2 separate regions of the Homo sapiens genome follow, and region 1 is linked to region 2. The links come from fine-mapping of genetic effects on gene expression. Tissue or cell type: whole blood. Region 2 holds a variant in brackets; the other region holds the start of a gene. All regions are shown on one strand. Distances are from middle to middle.

Region 1 (2,684 bases), 100 kb after region 2:
GTGTGCCACCACGCCCGACTAATTTTTATATTTTTTGTAGAGACGGGGTTTCACCATGTTGGCCAGGCTGGTATCGAACTCCTAACCTCAGGTGATCCACCCGCCTCGGCCTCCCAAACTACTGTGATTACAGGCGTGAGCCAGGGAGCTCGGCCTTGTTATATCTGGTTTTTGTTTTTTTGAGACGGAGCCTCGCTCTGTAGCCCAGGCTGGGGTACAGTGGCGCGAACTCGGCTCACTGCAACCTCCGCCTCCCGGGTTCAAGCGATTCTCCTGCCTCACCCTCCTGAGTAGCTGGGATTACAGGCGCGCGCTTTTTGTATTTTTAGTAGAGACAGGATTTCACCATGTTGGTCAGGCTGGTCTTGAACTCCTGACTTCAGGTGATCCGCCCGCCCCGGCCTCCCAAAGTGCTGGGATTACAGGCATGAGGCACCGCGCCTGGCCTGGTTTTTAATTACGAAGAAAAAATTACTATAGTCCCTTTGGTATCACCTACATTGGCAAAATTGCAGTCCCCCTCCACTCCCTGAAGCCACCAGAAATGACTGCTGTTGTCTACAAAGCCTACAGCTCTGATTTCATCTCAAGATGTGTCCTACTGGGTGACAGCAAATGCCATTTTTTAAAGGCTTGTATCTGTTATAAGCTTGGGAAATATTATCATGGCTTAAGAGGCTCTTTTGACAAAAGAAAACACTGTTCCCTGAAATCACCTGGGCTGTTCACGGGAATCTTTTCCTCGCCCTTCTGGTACTTGGACAAATGATCAAGGATATCAACAAATCAAGGTTCCCCGCATTTGAATGATCACAGAATTTTTGCGTGTTCTGTAAATGGGCTAAAACTACTGGAAACTGATTTCTTTTCGTCATCTCCAGGGCAGCTTGCCCAACGTGCCGCGACTATGATGTCTTAGACTTAACTACTTAAGGTAATACAATTACCAAATTCCTGGAAACGCAAAATTTCCTCAGACAGGTACCGGATTATTCACATCCAACCTGATGCAATTAACCACGTCTCAAGAAAAAAGGACGTTCCGTCCGCCTCGGGCGCCGGCCACAGCAGAAGCAGCACCGGCAGCAGGCCCGGGGTCCGCCGCCTGTGGCCCCTGCTCCTCCGCTCTGCGCCCTCGGGGCCACTGAACAACGCTGTCCCCGCCCCAGGCAAGGGACCCGGGCGATGGGGCGGCAGCCCCAGCCTCTCCCGGAGCGGCGGAAAGGCAAGCACGAGGGTCGCACCCGGCCTGTCTGCACACAGTCAAGCCGCAAGCGGGGTCCCAGAACCAGCTGAACCCCAACACCAACGGACGAAGGCCAGTGGGTCTCGGCGGCGAAGCCTGCGGGTTGTTCCAGAAGCCCCGAAGCCCAGAACGAGGACGGCGCGGGAAGGGAAAGGCGCAGGCGCGGGACACACTGGAGGGGCCCAGGAGCAGAGACGGCGCAGGCGCTGGGCCTGCCGGGGTCTGCGGGGACGCCCGGGCGCGGCAGCGCGGGCGGCGCTGAGGCGATAAACCAACCCGCCAGCGAACACTGCGGGAACCCGGCTGCTGCTCTTACCGCGCTGCACCGCATCGCTCCCTCGCAATCTCCTGGTTTGGGCTGGGCGGTGAGCTCACCCGGTGGCTCAGCCGAGACCCGTTGAGTCCGGCCTCAGGAAAGCAGCCTACCCCGCAGCGCCGCTTGCCGGGCCGCCCGGCCTCCCTCGCGGGCCCCGCCCTTGGCCAGCCCCTTCGCGCCCAGCAGGGCTGCGGCCGTCTGCGCAGGCGTCGTGGAGGCCCCGCCTACATTCCTTCACTGCGCAGGCGCCGCCGTCCCCCACCACCACCCCCTCCCCTTCCCCCATCTCCGGCTCGCGTCCGTCTCGGCACTGGGTCGCGCAGCCGCTCTGCCACTTGGCCGGTCAAGAAAGTAGCCGGCCAGCCGGTGCGCATGCCTCAGGTCTTGGGCTGGAGCCGGGCAAGGCGGGTCCCTTCAGAGGCCCCACTGGGCCCAGCGGAATGATGCTCAGAGTCCGCTAGTCCCAAAAGTTCTCCTCAGCGTGTTTACCGTGTGCCAAGGACTGTGCTATGCATGAGCCAGACAGCAGTGAGGAAAACACAAAGCCCTGTCCTCCTGGCACTCCCGGTACATAAGGGAACAGACAAAAAGAATAAGCGAGCAACATATATGTATATATATATGTATATACATATATATATACGTATATATATATACGTATATATATATGTATATATATACATATATATATACGTATATATATATGTATATATATGTGTATATATATACATATATATATGTATATATATATATATATATATATAAAATATTAAAGAAATTCTGGGGGAGTTCGAGTTCCATCGGCCCCCATCCGGGCCACCCTGCCACCTTAGCGGCTGCTCCTCCCCAGAATGCTGATGCCTAAGAAAAACCGGATTGCCATTTATGAACTCCTTTTTAAAGAGGAAGTCACGGTGGTCAAGAAGGATGTCCACATGCCTAAGCACCTGGAGTTGGCAGACAAGAATGTGCCCGGCCGGGCGCGGTGGCTTAGGCCTGTAATCCCAGCACTTTGGGAGGCCGAGGCGGGCGGATCACGAGGTCAGGAGTTCAAGACCAGCCTGGCCAAGATGGTGAAACCCGTGTCTACTAAAAATACAAAAATATTAGCCAGGCGCGGTG
Region 2 (2,684 bases):
AGGCTGAGGTGGGAAGATCACTTGAGACCAGCCTGGGAAACATAGTGAGACCTCATGTCGAAAAAAAAAAGTTCTTAACAGTGACATTTATAATAACCCCCCCAAAAGTGTAAGCAACACAAACACCATCTTGAACAGAAGAATGGATAAATATGTGGCATATCCATACAATGGAATATTGTTTGGCCATAAAAAGGAATGAGGTACTAGTATATGCTACAGCATGGATGAACCTTAAAAACATGATGCTAAGTGAAAGAAGCCAGTCACAGAGGACCACATATTGTGTGATTCCATTTATAGGAAATGTCCATAATAAAGAAATCTATAGGACAGAAAGTAGATTAGTGGTTGCCTATAGTAAATAGAGAATGAATGCTAATGGGTATAGGATTTCTTTATGGAGTGGTAAAAATAGCCTAAAACTGGTTGTGGTAATGGTTATACAACTCTGAATACACTTAAAAAAAAAACAAAAACCCACTGAAATGTACATTTTAAGTGGCTGAATTGTATCTTGTGTGGCATATCTCAATAAAAAAAGTTCTTTCTTAAGAAAAAAAAAAAACTAGGTGATTGTGTAATTTTCACTTATGCTTGAGGTTTCAGTTCTACAACCAACTTGAAACTGCCAGTATTCACGTTCCTGCCGTTCAACAAAACTTGAGACTTTTCAGGCCTGAGTGTGGAAGTCTTTTTAGGTTGAAGTTTTATGTTCGGCTTCTTTCCCTTAGCATAAAATATTCAAAGTTCATCCAAGTTGCAGCATGTATCAGAACTTCTAATCCATGAACAAGGTATGTCTTTCCATTTATTTAGATTTTAATTTCTTTCAGCAATGTTTTGTATTTTTCAGTGTATTAGACTTGTGCCTCCTTGGTTAAATTTATTCCTAAATAGTTTATTCTTTTTGATGCTGCTATAAATGGAATGTTTTAATTTACTGTTACTATATGTAAATGCAAGTGAGTTTTGTATACTGATCTTGCATCTTCAACTTTTCTGGATTTACTAGTTCCAACAGTTTTTATGTGAATTCTTAAAGGTTTTCTAGATATAAGCTGGATGTGATGGCCTACACCTGTAGTCCCAGCTACTCACGATGTTGGAAGTGGGAGGACCACTTGAGCCCAGAAGTCTGAACCTAGACTGGGCAACATAGTGAGACCCTATCTCTTAAAAAAATCTAGACATAAATCACATCATCTGCAAATAGAGATCATTTTACTTTTTTTCCTATCTGGATGCCTTTTCTTTCCTTTTTTCTTGTCTGTCTTAGCTAGAACTTGCAGAAAAATGTTGAATAGAAATGGTGATAAACGACATTCTTTCTTGTTCCTGATCTTAAGGGGAAAGCTTTCAGTCTTCACCATTAAGTATAATGTTAAAACTGTGGG[T/G]TTTTTTTGTTTTTTTTGTTTGTTTGTTTGTTTGTTTTGAGACAGAGTCTCACTCTGTCACCCAGGCTGGAGTGCAGTGGTGTGTTATCAGCTCACTGCAACCTCCACCTCGCAGGTTCAAGTCATTCTCATGTCTCAGCCTCCCAAGTAGCTGGCATTACAGGTGTGTGCCACTACACCTGGCTAGTTTTTGTATTAGTAAAGATGGAGTTTTGCATGTTGCCTAGGCTGGTCTTGAACTCCTGGCCTCAACTGATCACCCGCCTTGGCCTCCCAAAGTACTGGGATTACAGGCATAAGCCACTGTGCCCAGCCAACTGTGGGTTTTCATAGGTACCCTTTATTAGATTGAGAAAATTACCTTTTATTCCTAGTTTTTAAAATCATAAATGGCTGCTGGATTTTACCAAATGCTTTTACAGTGTCTAGTGAGATGATCATGCGGTTTTTTCCCCTTTATTCTAATAATATGGTATTACAGTATTAATTCATTTTCATATGTTGAACCAACCTTGCATTGCTGGGATAAAGAACACTTGGTCAGGGTGTATAATCCTCTTTAATATACTGCTGGATATTGTCATTATTTTGTCAAGGGCTTTTACAGTTTTCTTTTTTTGTAATATCTTTTTCCGTTTTTGGTATGAGAGTAATGATGGCCTCACAGAATGAGTTAGGAAGTAATATTTTCTTTGATTTTTGGAAGAGTTTGAGAAGTATTGCTATTAATTCCTCTTTTAAAATTTGGAAGAATTAACCAGTAAAGTAATCTGGTCCTGGGCTTCTCTTTGCTGGAAGTATTTTGATTACTAACTCAATCTCATTAGTTGTTATTTGTCTCTCCAGATGTTCTTGCTTCTTGAGTCCATTTTGATAGTTAATGTTTCTAGGAATTTGTCCATATCATCTAAGTTATCCAATTTTTGGCATTCATTGTTCACAGTATTCCATTTTAATCCTTTTTATTTCTTAAGGTCATTAGTAACGTCCCTTTATTCCTGATTTTGGTAACTTTAGTCTTCGTTTTCTTTTTATCTATCTACTTAGAGGTTTGTCAATTTGTTTATCTTTTCAAAGAACCCATTTTTTTTTCATTGATCTTCTCTATTGTTTTTCTATTTTCTATTTTATTTATTTTGGCTCTAATCTTTATTTCCTTCCTTCTGCTTATTTTGGGTTTAGCTTATCTTTTTTCTACTTCCTTTTTTTTTAAATTATACTTTAAGTTTTAGGGTACATGTGCACAAGGTGCAGGTTAGTTACATATGTATACATGTGCCATGTTGG

Evidence for each region. PIP is the estimated chance that this variant, and not a neighbour inherited with it, causes the effect.
Region 1: SPECC1L starts here. The variant in region 2 is fine-mapped to the expression of SPECC1L in whole blood (TOPMed, PIP above 0.99).

What each region holds. Positions count from the first base shown.
Region 1 is chr22:24,269,862-24,272,545 of GRCh38, reverse strand. SPECC1L (sperm antigen with calponin homology and coiled-coil domains 1 like) reads right to left here and starts at 1,715. Exons shown (of 17, transcript NM_015330.6): 1 at 1,563-1,715. It overlaps SPECC1L-ADORA2A (SPECC1L-ADORA2A readthrough (NMD candidate)), which reads right to left and starts at 1,729. Exons shown (of 20, transcript NR_103546.1): 1 at 1,563-1,729. It also overlaps the pseudogene RPS10P29. RefSeq lists an enhancer at 1,257-1,336 and a silencer at 1,397-1,926.
Region 2 is chr22:24,374,701-24,377,384 of GRCh38, reverse strand. The region is part of intron 14 of SPECC1L (sperm antigen with calponin homology and coiled-coil domains 1 like); the gene reads right to left. The region is part of intron 15 of SPECC1L-ADORA2A (SPECC1L-ADORA2A readthrough (NMD candidate)); the gene reads right to left. Among named protein-coding and RNA genes, the nearest start is that of ADORA2A, 52 kb to the left of the region's middle. The variant T/G (reference allele first, on the strand shown) is at 1,398.